Linked DNA regions of Homo sapiens. The protein of the gene in region 2 purifies or fractionates together with the protein of the main gene of each other region. This does not show direct contact. Each region holds a gene or a part of one and is shown on either strand. Other genes may lie near its edges.

The links. The genes of interacting proteins can lie anywhere in the genome.
Region 1: the proteins of TAF1 (region 2) and TAF9B purify together in Homo sapiens (affinity purification with western blotting; 4 studies listed by BioGRID and IntAct, with this or other methods). This does not show direct contact.
Region 3: the proteins of TAF1 (region 2) and PEX6 purify together in Homo sapiens (affinity purification with mass spectrometry, with the first as the bait; one large-scale study listed by BioGRID). This does not show direct contact.
Region 4: the proteins of TAF1 (region 2) and KSR1 purify together in Homo sapiens (affinity purification with mass spectrometry, with the first as the bait; one large-scale study listed by BioGRID). This does not show direct contact.

What each region holds. Positions count from the first base shown.
Region 1 is NC_000023.11:78,129,651-78,133,150, forward strand, and holds the end of TAF9B (transcription initiation factor TFIID subunit 9B), read right to left. Parts: intron 2,124-3,500; coding exon 1,960-2,123; 3' UTR 98-1,959; downstream 1-97. UniProt on the Homo sapiens protein: Essential for cell viability. TAF9 and TAF9B are involved in transcriptional activation as well as repression of distinct but overlapping sets of genes. May have a role in gene regulation associated with apoptosis.
Region 2 is NC_000023.11:71,386,857-71,390,356, forward strand, and holds part of TAF1 (transcription initiation factor TFIID subunit 1), read left to right. Parts: intron 1-404; coding exon 405-605; intron 606-1,380; coding exon 1,381-1,522; intron 1,523-1,881; coding exon 1,882-2,012; intron 2,013-2,728; coding exon 2,729-2,809; intron 2,810-3,500. UniProt on the Homo sapiens protein: The TFIID basal transcription factor complex plays a major role in the initiation of RNA polymerase II (Pol II)-dependent transcription.
Region 3 is NC_000006.12:42,963,365-42,966,273, forward strand, and holds the end of PEX6 (peroxisome biogenesis factor 6), read right to left. Parts: coding exon 2,878-2,909; intron 2,742-2,877; coding exon 2,680-2,741; intron 2,426-2,679; coding exon 2,317-2,425; intron 2,005-2,316; coding exon 1,888-2,004; intron 1,789-1,887; coding exon 1,711-1,788; intron 1,566-1,710; coding exon 1,426-1,565; intron 1,108-1,425; coding exon 971-1,107; 3' UTR 501-970; downstream 1-500. Other genes in the region: CNPY3-GNMT (Glycine N-methyltransferase-like isoform 1 precursor), read left to right, coding at 1-85, 171-342; GNMT (glycine N-methyltransferase), read left to right, coding at 1-85, 171-342. UniProt on the Homo sapiens protein: Component of the PEX1-PEX6 AAA ATPase complex, a protein dislocase complex that mediates the ATP-dependent extraction of the PEX5 receptor from peroxisomal membranes, an essential step for PEX5 recycling.
Region 4 is NC_000017.11:27,459,448-27,462,947, reverse strand, and holds part of KSR1 (kinase suppressor of Ras 1), read right to left. Parts: intron 1-3,500.

The DNA of each region.
Region 1 (3,500 bases), 6.7 Mb from region 2:
TGATATATAACCATTAAACAAATCTTACTGGTCTTTGGCCATCAGAATTACTGGGCTTTGTTCATCTCCCTTGAATCCTAAAAAATGAAAACACTGATAAGCTCAAATTTTTATTAACCTTGGAACAAATGCAATAATTCCTTACAGTCATATAGCATTTTACAATTCTGAAAGAATTTTCACATATACCAATTGAACCCTCACAACAGCCCTGTGAGGTAGGCAGGGTAGGTGTTACTTTCCTACTGCTAGTGAGGAGAACAAGGCTAAGAGGTGAAGTAAGGTCACACAGTTGGTAAATGATGGAGCTAGGACTAGAACCTAGGCCTTCTGACTTGCTGCCTCCCTGAGAACATTCAAGTAATAATATCCTATGCTATATAATGAATATTTATCTCCTATGATGTTGATCAGGTCTATTTTTATACATTTTACCTGTTTTTATATTACCTTTCCCTAATACTGAAAAACACTAAAACTGATACGAGACATTTGAGACATTTCTTCTCTGTTACTGGACTTTCTTAGATATATCAAACACTATCCTAAGATGAAACTTCTGTTTTGAGGATCCTTGGCTATAAATTCTCAATTATGATACGAACATTTATTTTACAAATTCTACAAAAGTATGTTGAACTTAAGAAAAACAAAACAGGTGTGTTTATATTCTCAAAAGCTTTGCCATCTTTCCCAATATGACTTTAATATGTGTATAAATGGAAAACAGGGAAAGGTGTTCAGCAACATTACAGTATTATTGGGAAACCTATGCAGAGTGCACATAAATGCAAGTTACATCACATTAATTTGTTTTCTTTGTTGGCCTTATAGAGGATGAACCATTAGTGTCTTTCAGGTTTGATCCTGTCTTATATGTGACATCCTCAGCAACAAGCTAAAATGATCTGAATTATACCAATAGCGGGGCTCAAGCAGCAGTGATCAAAACATAATATGTATGTGGTAAAAAGGAACACTTGTTCTTCAGTGGTTTTGCCTAGGTCCAGTGTAATTACTTATCAAAACATGTTTTAAGCTACAGCATCTCTGTTAAATTTAGAAATGTGAAACATGGAAGAGTTATCAACTTGGAATACAATACTAAAACTGAATATAACTGACCCAAAACTACCTGTCAAAAGCACAGTAAAGCTTAACAGGCATAAAAACTAAGGGGTAAAACCCAACTGCTCTGACATAAGAGTGAAAAACAGCAAATGCAAACCATCAGGTTAAAGTGAATCACAAAACATTAGGCATGTAGAGCATGTTTTAAAAATAGGAAAATGACACTGAGCTGTATTACCAGGAATAATATTTTTAAAATTCCAGGTATGGCCTTCTACATTTAATAGCAATGGAGAGAAACAAGCCTATGGGGGAGGTGCAGAAAATGAATGGGATCTAGAAAGGGAGTTGAGTTTGGAAGTTAAGGAAGTCAAAGAAACAAATACATCCAAAATGGATTTAGAATCTCTCCTCTAAATCCATCCTTTCCAAAAAATGTTTCCTATATTGAGAGATTTGGTAAAAAAAAAAAAATTAGCTAGTGACAGTAAGTAACTATATTACCTTATAAAATAAAGTAGTATTTAAATGTAGATCAGAAATTATGCTGTCAAAGATAAATCTGCTGACTAGGCTGTAGAATCTGAAACTTAAATGCTACTATCAGTGATAGAAGGCAGAAAAGTGTCTCAAAAACAGAATTGCCATATTAGGACTCAACATTAATGAAACTATTAAGAAACAAGTACTTAACTGTTTGTAATTGAAGCCTACTGAAAAACACATTTGTATGTTTACTAAAGAGATCTAACAGTTTTAACTGACGAAAAATACTGCAGCTACATTTCAGTCTTTTAAGGTAAAACAAGATCTAGAATATTCTAGTTCAGTATACTGGGCTCAAAACCAACTTTCCTTTTGAAATGCATCTAGACTAGACTATATTCCTTACATAATATCATTGTCATCATCATCTTCATGTTTTCTCTTCAGTGGGTTTGCTTCATTGGCTGTGTTCTGTGACGAAACCATGTTGGTGGTAATAAGAATATTTTTGGGCCCAATCATTGAAGGATTAATCAGAACATTTTGAACTGCAGTTGTTGCAGGAACTGTAAACAGAGAAGAAAGCCCCCCCAAAACCAAGCTATGAATTACCCAGAATCTGAAACATATGATAAAAAGTATACAACAAAGCTGAATGTAATTCTAATACCAATTTCAATAGCATGAAGTGCAACTATATCATAGAAGAAACATAGGTACTTATACTGCAATGAGTTGAATTAAATTTTAAAAAATCTTTATTTTTAATTGGCAAATAATAATTGTGTATTTATTTTTAAATTACTATTTTTTTGAGACAGTGTCTCGCTCTGTCGTCCAAGCTGGCGTGATCTTGGCTCACTGCAACCTCCGCCTCCTGAGTTCAAGTGATTCTCGTGCCTCAGGTTCCCAAGTAGCCGGGATTATAGGCGTGTACCACCAAACCTGGCTAATTTTTGTATTTTCAGTAGAGACGGGGTTTCACCACGTTGGCCAGGCTGGTCTCGAACTCCTGGCCTCAAGTGATCCTCCCGCCTCGGTCTCCCAAAGTGCTGGGATTACAGGTGTGAGCCATTGTACCCTGCCAATAATTGTGTATATGTACGGGATATAATGTGATGTTCTGATCTATGTATAGATAAAGATTAAACATATCTAGTACAAGGTTGAAGAAGTTCTGTTGTATTTTAACAACCTAGAATTTCAATTTAGTCATGGGAAACTGCACTGGATTCATCATGCAACATATTAAACAAAGGCCTATGTTCAAGGTCAGGAATCACTTCCCTAATAGGCCAGTATTTTACGTTAGTTGCTTATTGTGTGTGGTTAGGTTTCAGAAGATATGAAATCTAGACATACACATTAGTAAACTGTGCTATGACAGAATTCTTATTCCAATCTGTGTGTGTGTGTGTGTGTGTGTGTGTGTGTGTGTGTGTATCCTATGAAGTAAAGGTACAATTTCATTTGAATTTACATTTATGTTCTGGATTGCATACACATATTCATCACTAAGTTTTGTCGCTTTCTTGAGCTTTTACCTTAACTGCTTTTCCTTGAAGACGACTTAGATTTGTGGACCCTAACTGTTTAGCTGACGGTGTTCTTTGAAAATCTGATGAACACACTGAATACTCTTTCCCTCCTCCCCAAAACGTTACATATATAGTAGTCCCCCCTTATCTGCAGTTTCAGCTACTTGTGGTCAACTGCGATCCAAAAATAGATGAGTACAGTACAGTAAGATACTTTGAGAGATCACACTCACATATATTTTATTACAGTATGTTGTTGTAATTGTTAATTAATTATTGTTAATTTCTTGCCGTGCCTAATTTATAAATTAAACCTTATAATTTAGAAAGTTTATAAATTTAACTTTAAAGGTTGTAAATTTAACTGGGGGTCTTGGAACAATCCCTCAAGGATAAGGGGGGAGA
Region 2 (3,500 bases):
TATAGTACTTGGTACATTATGAAGTGATTTTCATATGTAATCTTCATAGCAGTCCTGTGAGGTATAGGCATTTTTAAGTATCTCTGTTTTGTAGATGAGGAAAACTAAACTTAGACATGTTAAATAGCTTAAATAGACATGTTAAATCATAGAGGTAATGGCAGAGCTAGCATCATCTGAATTCACATCCTGTATTTTCTCCCCTACTGACTCTGAAAGATAGTGGATGAAAAATTGTTTAGTCACATTTGATAATCTATATTTTAATTTATTTGTATTACTGGATAGACCTTAGATGGCGTAATTAAGATGGAGAGCAATAAGCTTGGTATTTCTTTCTCAGCAGTTGACTGAATTTCCTAGGGCTACTCTGTATATAATTTTTGTGTTTTTACTTTTGTTAGGCATTTGAGAACAACCTTTTTCGTGCTCCAATTTATCTTCATAAGATGCCAGAAACTGATTTCTTGATCATTCGGACAAGACAGGGTTACTATATTCGGGAATTAGTGGATATTTTTGTGGTTGGCCAGCAGTGTCCCTTGTTTGAAGTTCCTGGGCCTAACTCCAAAAGGGCCAATACGCATATTCGAGACTTTCTACAGGTAAGAATGGGAGGATAGGGAGGGGATTGGGTTGTATACAGAAAGGGTATGTTGGGGCCGGGCATGGCGGCTCATGGCTGTAATCCCAGCACTTTGGGAGGCCGCGGTGAATGGATCACTTGAGGTCAGGAGTTCGAGACCAGCCTGACCATCATGGTGAAACCCTGTCTCTACTAAAAATACAAAAATTAGCTGGGCGTGGTGGCTCACGCCTGTGATCCCAGCACTTTGGAAGGCCGAGGTGGGCGGATCACCTGAGGTTGGGAGTTTGAGACCAGCCTGACCAACATGGAGAAACCCCGTCTCTACTAAAAATACAAAATTAGCCAGGCGTGGTGGCACATGCCTGTAATCCCAGCTACTCAGGAGGCTGAGGCAGGAGAATCGCTTGAACCTAGGAGGCGGAGGTTGCAGTGAGCCGAGATCGCACCACTGCACTCCAGCCTGGGCAACAAGAGTGAAACTCAGTCTCAAAAAAAAAAAAAAAATTTAGCCAGGCATGGTGGCGCACGCCTATGGTCCCAGCTACTCTGGAGGCTGAGGCAGGAAAATCACTGGAGCCCGGGAGGCAGAGGTTGCAGTGAGCTGAGATCAAGGCACTGCACTCTACTCTGGGTGACAGAGCGAGACTCCGTCTCAGAAAAAGTAGGCTGTGTGGGTTTGGGAGCACATCGGGAAAGATGAAAATACATTAGAGCTTAGCAAAGGAAGAGGCCCTAGTGAGGACTTTTATCCTTTTCTTTGCCAAATAAAATACACTTGGTTTGTTGGGCAGGTTTTTATTTACCGCCTTTTCTGGAAAAGTAAAGATCGGCCACGGAGGATACGAATGGAAGATATAAAAAAAGCCTTTCCTTCCCATTCAGAAAGCAGCATCCGGAAGAGGCTAAAGCTCTGCGCTGACTTCAAACGCACAGGTCGTCTGTTGTGACTAGTTATTTGTCTGCCTTTTTCCAAGAAAAGAATTTTGATGGCTTTGAGTTAAAGGATAAGCATATAGTTAATAAAATAGAAATTGATGGCTGTTGAAAGGAGGTAGCAGATCTTCTAACACTCTGGTTGCTTTTTTGAATTTGGCTGCCAGGAAGTTTAATGTGATTGTTGGATATCTTCTATGAGTTGTAGGAAACTTAGCAGCTGGGGTTTTCTTGGCCAGTCATGCCAACTGTGGCTAGGCCTGTTACAGTTTTGGTTTGCTGTCCCTGTTGCTGTCAATAAATATCAGGGCCTTTGGAATTCAGAATGGTCTCATTCTCTATGTATATGTCTTTTCCAGGGATGGACTCAAACTGGTGGGTGCTTAAGTCTGATTTTCGTTTACCAACGGAAGAAGAGATCAGAGCTATGGTGTCACCAGAGCAGTGCTGTGCTTATTATAGCATGATAGCTGCAGAGCAACGACTGAAGGTGAACACCTTCCTCTTAGACACCACTTATGCCTGTGGTTTTTTGTTTTTTTTTTTCTTCCCCCCAGAGAGATGAGAGAGAAGATTCTTTCTCTGACTGGCTTAGGGAGGATGGTTTACTAGATTATTACCAATTACTAAAAAGTTCAATTTGTATAAAGTACTTCTACGTACATCAGTTCTGGAGAAAAACTATAGTGTAGCTAAGTATCAGTGGGAAGGCATAATGAGGAACTTTGGGCATATTGTTTTGCTTTGAAAATGGTGACTGGGTGACTTTAATCTCTTCTTTGCAAGATAAGCATATAAGCAGGGAAAGTACTTGTCAGCCTCTCAGGTAGGCAGAGATGATGATGGTGCTGAATGTGTGGTTTAGAGAAGCACAGAATTCTTATAAGGCCAAAAGAGAAAAGGTCCAGCTGAGGTGTGACAGCACAGCTCTGTCCCACTGAGTTAATGAGACTCAGTTATTGAGCATCTCTGTTCAGCTTGCTTATGGGCTGTAACTATCTGTATATCAGCTAGTAAGCTCCTTGGCATGTTGTAATGTATCTTATAGCTTAAGGATGTGCCGTGGTGTTAGATATAGTGAAGACTTTATGGAATCCATCTATGCAAAATAGACTTTGGTATTCTGTACTTGTATTCAGTAAAAAAAAAACTTGTGCTTTGTGTTTTTTAACTGACTGATTTATGCATGGATCTGTCCTCTTCCAGGATGCTGGCTATGGTGAGAAATCCTTTTTTGCTCCAGAAGAAGAAAATGAGGAAGATTTCCAGATGAAGATTGATGATGAAGTAAGGCTTTATACTAGTTTGTATTAGTCATTAATACATCTCATTTATCCTTTTAAAAGAGACAGCTTTATTGAGATAACATAAAATAAACTGTACACATTTAAAGTATACTGTTAGATGTTCTTGCTTTATTCATGCCAGAAAAAATGATGCGATATATCAAATATTATATTTTATATGATATGGGTTTGTTTTTTTTTGTTTGTTTTGTTTTTTGACAGAATCTTGCTCTGTCACCCAGGCTGGAGTGCAGTGGTGGCATGACCTCGACTCACTGCAACCTTCACCTACCGGGGTTCCTGCAATTCTCGCGATTCTCCTGCCTCAGCCTCCCGAGTAGCTGAAATTACAGTTGCACGCCACCATGCCCAGCTAATTTTTTGTATTTTTAGTAGAGATGGTGTTTCACCATGTTGGCCAGACTGGTCTTGAGCTCCTGACCTCAAGTGATCCTCGTGCCTTGGCCTCCCAAAGGGCTGGGATTACAGGCATGAGTCACTGCACCTGGCAGGATTTTCATTTCTTCTAGAAAAAAGACTTTGACCTGATTTATAAGACTTCACATGATTTGGGCCTTGCATATTAATCTGACCTCCTTTCATCTCCTGTCACTGCCTGTCTTATATTCTAAGCTCCAACCATACCGAAGTTCATTCAGTTTCCTAAATTTCTCTTCCCTTTCAGAATTTTT
Region 3 (2,909 bases), on a different chromosome or scaffold from region 2:
TAGTGAACAACAAGGCCCACATGGTGACCCTGGACTATACGGTGCAGGTGCCGGGGGCTGGCCAGGATGGCTCTCCTGGCTTGAGGTACCACTTGGCTTAGTGGGGGTGAGGCGGTAGTTGGGGGAGCTGAGGTCACCAGTCCTCATGGTTGCTGGGGCCTCTGTTACAGTAAGTTCCGGCTCTCCTACTACCCACACTGTCTGGCATCCTTCACGGAGCTGCTCCAAGCAGCCTTCGGAGGTAAGTGCCAGCACAGCGTCCTGGGCGACTTCAAGCCTTACAAGCCAGGCCAAACCTACATTCCCTGCTACTTCATCCACGTGCTCAAGAGGACAGACTGAGTGTGGCCTCAGCTCCCACAAGCCTCTGCCCAGGCACTGCTAGGCTCTGTCTGGAAGATGGGGACCAGCAGCCCCACACCAGGGCCAGCCTCTAGAGCAGACTACAGCTGGGGTGCAGGGATGTGGGTTCCACAGACGGAAGGGTAAACAATATAGTCTTTTTCAGTTCCTGCATGCATTGTGTTTATTTATGTCAGAAGGATCAGGCTCCCATGCTGCCCACCCCCCCACCCTCTCCCAGGGCTTACTCCTCCCACAACCCTGCTCTTTCTCACTCCAACCTTTCATGCCACAACACCAGTAGGGGGCGGGACATGCTTTATTTTCAGCCACAGAACTAGCCCTCTCAGGGCCCAATCCCCAGAACCCAAGGCCCTGGCCCTCTTCCTGAGTAGATGGGCCTTTCTCTTAGAGCCGGCCTGGAAGGAGGGGCAAGTAGGCAGGAGATATCTCTTGAGCTGTTGCTGCTGTCTCAATGCCACTTTGCACCCTGGGATCTCCTGGAGGGAGGTGGCCTCCAGGTGGGTTGGCAGCAGCCTGAGGAGGAGCCCTTCCTTCCCAGATCTCTCTGTGGGCTATCAAGGTACCTGCAGCCATGCTGAGCGGGGTCCCAGACCCTGGGGGGCTCCTAGCAGGCAGCAAACTTGCGCTGGATGCGCTTGTACCGGAGCAGCTCCTGCTCACTGACTGAGGGTTGCAGCCGGGCGGCAGCCTGCAGCAAGTCCTCCATGGTGAGCATCAGTGCTGAGCTACCTGGCTCCAGCCCTGGAGATGACAAGGTGGGGAGGCTGTGGTCTATGCCCAGGCAGGGGAGAGCCCTGCGAAGGTGGCTTCCTGCTCAGGGTCTCCTAGATGTCAATGATCTTCCCTCTGGAATCCAGGACTAGGTTTGTCTCCCACTAGTTTTTTTTTTCCCTTAAACATTTTTTTTAGAGTTGGGGTCTCTCTGTGTTGCCCAGGCTGGCCTCAAACTCCTGGGCTCAAGCGATCCTCCCACCTCAGCCTCTCAAGTAGCTGGGACTCAGGTGCACCCAGCTCCCCACTAGCTTTTTGGTTGACCTCTCAGACCGGCAAGTGGCTCACCTTCCTCCAGGTCATGAACCCTGCGTTTGAGGGCAGCTGTCATAGCATCAGAGCAGAGAGAGTAGAGGTCCGCGCCCGTCAGCTGGGGAGGGCAGCAATCTAGCACGTTTACCAGGCTCACAGATGGCTCTAGCTTGAATCTGTTGTGGGATACAGGAAGAAACAGAGTTGGCATCACCTCCTCCCTCGAAAGCCAGTGCTGACCAGCTCATCCTGCATGTTGCATGCATCCCCTAAGCATCCCAAGGCCCAAGCCCTTCGCAGTCTTCCTCTAACAGAGCATACTTGCGTGTGATGGCACTTAGAACGCGTAGCTGGGAGGCCCGGTCCTCATTTGCCCCCACAAACACCAGCTTGTCAAATCTTTAGGGAGATAGGCAGGTATAAGTTTCAGGGAGCCCAGCCATGAGGGGTGAAGGAGGCACAAAATGAGGGTGGAGATGAGCAGTACAAGGGGCCCACCTGCCAGGCCGCAGAAGGGCAGGGTCCAGGAGATCTGGTCTGTTGGTGGCTCCAATCACAAACACATCCTGAGTGCTGTGCAGCCCATCTAGCTCGGCAAGGAGCTGAGACACCACCCTGGAGAGAAGGGAGCAAGGGCAAGAGTCCTTGGTGTCCCCCTTAGACTCTGCCCCTGCCTGTGGTACCTCTCTTTACAGGCAGTCTCAACAGGGCCCTCCACTCAGCTGTGCCCAATGTGCCCCACCAGGTAGGCCCCCATTCTCCTCAGTGGACCCTGCCCAATTTCATGGCCCCTTTCAGCTTCCATTATATTATCTCAGAACTGAAACAGCAGGAACTTCTATCTCTGGACTCTGAAGACTGCTGTGAGCTTTCTCATATCCTTCCCACCCTGGACCCCTCAGCTTTCATTCCCACTCAGACCCCTACCTGTCCATCACTCCTCCAGAATCTCCACTTCGCCCCCGGCTTGGGGCCAAAGAGTCCAGTTCATCAAAGAAGATAATGCATGGAGCTGCAGCCCTGGCCCTGGCAAACACTGAAGAGAGAGAGGGGCCCACAGGAGGGCAAAGCTCGGCTTGTGGGGGGTTGAAGTTAGGTGAGAGCAGGGAGGGAAACTGGGGCCTGACAATACAGCACTGGCATCCCAGGTACTAGACCCAGCTGGGCAGGAACCTGACTTGTAGAAAGGAGGATTAGGAATGATCATGAGTAGCCTGGGAGTAGGGGGTGGCTTGGGGGCCATCGGGGTTTGGGAAGCATGGGACGCCCTGCCCCTCCCTGCTCACTCACCTTCCCGCACATTCTCCTCACTTTGGCCCACATACATGTTAATGAGCTCTGGCCCCTTCACGCTGAGTGAGAGGATGTGAGAAGGTGAGAGCCGTCAGATGCACATACACACAATTGACCTCTTGGGCAGCCCCTCCTGCTCCCCAGCCTGCTGCAGCCCCTGATCCACCCACCATCCCTTCCAGGCCCCCTGGCCACCTGAGGAAGGTAAGGCTGCACTCAGTGGCTAC
Region 4 (3,500 bases), on a different chromosome or scaffold from region 2:
ACACAATGCAGCCACTAATAGTGCTGATGCATATGTATATGTGCTGATACAGACAGAAGACATTTACAAGGCAATGCACATGGTATGTGCCACAAATATACACATGTACATTTATATGCAAATGCAGGAAGAATATACAACAAAATGTGCACTGGAATTAACTCTGAGAGGTGGCATTATGGGTGATTTTCACTGTTGTACATCTAGTACTTTCTTTTTTATAGTGAACATATATCATTATGTATTTTGTAAATATTTTAATTAAAAGTAGAAAGTTAAAGAATACACTGTTTATCAGAGGAACTGTTCAGAAAGAATAAGACAGGTAGCCATTTAAAAAATTATGAGTAAACTGATCTCTAGGCAGCTTCTCCTTTCTCAGAATGAGACAAGCGTAGAGCGGGCTGCATCATGGTGCTGAGAGTCCTGTCTTTGAGGATGTGCTAGCCTGGACATTAGGGAAGCAGACCCATGCCCGAACCCTGAGGCTGCACAGCCTGGGTGGCCACCAGGAAGCCCAAACATCTAGAGTTGAGCCACGGAATGCCCTCGGCCCAGCCCTTTTTATTATTGGCCATTTCCTTGGTCTCAGCAACCATGGCCCTGCACAGAATCTCCCCGCCACAGCAACAGCTGTGGAGTTCTGAACATAAGTTCTCAAGACCAGTCAACCTGGGTTCAACCACCTGCTAAGACAGTCTCTCCATCCCTCTGAGCTGCAATTCCCTCATCTGCAACATCAGGATAAGGCCTCATAGCATCATTGTGAATGTTAAGGTGCAACATATGCCGAGAGCCTAGTGGAGTGCTCAACATAGAACAGGTGATCAAGCACGTTCTTCATCTGTGTCTGCCCTCTCTACTCCAAGATCATTCCCCTAACCCCAAAGGCACCTATGCAGCTTTCCCTTTGAATTAAACATAAAAAAGAGATCTCAACCAGCCTCTTCTGAAAGGATGGCCTTTTAAAAAGGCATAGCTTAGAGAGACTTGGCCACAGGCTTTGCTGCTTCTCCCCGGCATTGCAGACACTGCCACCGTGGGCCAGCGTCTCCGCATGGTCCATCTCCAGACACACCCAGCGGGCAGGAGTAGAATACCTGCGGCGCACTTTCCTGGATTTTGAGGCAGCCCAGACCACTCCAAGAAGAGGAAACAACCCTGACGTGGAAGAAGGCATTCCCATAGCTGCAGGCAGCAAACCACACCTCCAGATCTGATAAGACCTCTCTCCAGCACCACCCAGCCCTCCCCAGGCTCACAGCCACTGCGGGTCTCCCTCCAGGCTGCCTCTAAGAAACATTTGGGAGGTAGGTTTCACCAGGGAAAAAGTTACCCGGGTGAAAGTGGACACAAAAAAGGGCCAGAGCCCCAGCTCTGTATCTCTTCAGAGACGGCTGGAGCCACTTGGCCAGAGGGTTACAACTGTGGCCACAGAGCAGAAGCAGAGAAACGCCACACTTTGAGACAGTGGCTGGGTGGGAAAGCAAAACCAGGTTTCAGTCTCAGTTCTGCCAGGGACCTGTGACTTGGGAGAAGTCCCCAAGACTCTGGGAATATTTCCCAGAAAACCAGGAGGTGGCTCACACTTGTAATCCCAGCACTTTGGGAGGCCAAGGTGGGTAGATCACTTGAGGCCAGGAGTTCGAGACCAGCCTGGCCAACACGGCAAAACCCTATCTCTACTAAAAACACGAAAATTAGCTGGACATAGTGGGGCATGCCTGTAATCCCAGCTACTCAGAAGCTAAGGCAGGAGAATTGCTTGAACCTGGGAGGCTGAGATTGCAGTGATCCGAGATCATGCCACTGTACTCCAGCCTGGGCGACAGAGTGGGACTCTGACTAAAAGAAAAACAAAAACAAAAACAAAAAACAAAACAAAACAAAAAAACCAGGAGGTTGGATGGGCCAAGGGTTCAGTGGGGTTCCCAATGCAGGGTCCTGCAAGCTGTGCTACTAAAGTCATTACTGTGCCCTGCCTGGCTCCTTCACTAGACTAGAACTGTCCCTAGACCCCAAAGACTGGGAGAACAGCCCACCTACTTCAGAGCCCTTGCTAGGTGGCTGCCAGCCAGGTAAGCACATCAACAGTAACTAAAGGTCTGTCCAGGGAACGTGCCTCAACACACCCTAAGGACCCAATCTGCAGGAATGCCACCCCTCCCCTCTCCCAGCAGTTCCATCATCAGATGCTCCTGGGAGGCATAGGGAGAGCTCAGGTCCCCCACACGGTGGGACTCTGACCTCTGCCACGGCAGAGCTGTGTGAGGGCCAGGCCTCTCTGACCTTCCAGATGGCAGGAGGGCCTCCCCTCTGACCCCCTGCGGCTCCAGGGCAACTGCTCAGGAAAGCAGCCCAAGGGCAGAGACTGTACCTACCACAGTTCCCAACATCGCCTCCCAGCACAGCCTGACTCTGCACCTACCACAGTTGCCAACATCACCTCCCCCAGCAAAGCCTGATGGTCAAAGTCCTTCAGCCCCTTTCTCCACGCCAGCTTGCTTAGGAGGGATTTTTCTCCACAAGAACACAAGGTGGGGAGACTCAGCATGGCAGAGCCTGTCTCTGGAAAGTACTAGTAGGCTGGCAGGAAAGGGCAAGTCACAATGTCCCTGGAACATAAATCTCCATGAGGCAACATGTGTCTGCTTCTACACACCCTTGTCTCCCCAGCGCTGGGCAGATTCAAAGGAATGAAGGTAATTATTACTGGCATAGGTTGCAGGCCCAGCTATTAGGCAGGCCAAGTGTCCCTCTGTGAGTACACTGGGGCATAAGAACATTCCCGTTTGCCTCGGTGGAGTTTTCAGACCCCTAGGAGGGTCTAGCGGAGACAGAACACCAGCTCCTGCCAGGATGAAGTAGCCTCACAACTTCTGTTTACAGATTAATACCCTGGTTTCAAATTGTGCCTCCCTCCCTTTATATTTAGAGAGGGAAAATGTGTATGATGAAAACTGCTGATCTCCAGGAACGTGTGTGAGTTTGAGAAGAGTCAGGCACGCTGCTAGGCACACAGGCAGCAAACGTTAAGTCTCAGCTCCTTCTACCCTTTTCCATCCAAACTGGACCACCACACAGAGAAAAGCTATCCCCGGACAACCAGACACGCTGACCCACTACACCCCATCACAACCCAATTTCAGGCAGCAGCAGCCCATCCCTGGTCAGGGACCTCCACGGACATTTCACGTGCTGCTTCTCCCACTGAGTGTTTATTTAATGAAGGCCAGAGTGAGCTGGGGCTCCTCAGATTCTAGATAAGTCCGATGCAGTTGCACAGGCCAAGCCCTCCAGGTCAGATCCTTCTTCAAAAGCCAGGAATCCAGTGTTGCAAGCACAGTCTCTGGGGCCACGGCCTGGTGTGTGGGGAGCCCACAGAACAGGAAAGAACGCTGGAGTGGACACTGCCACTTGCCTGCCTGGCCCCAACACATGCTGCTGGCGGTGGACGGTCCCACCCAGCTTGCTGAGATTGTTTCCTGGCTTGTGTCACC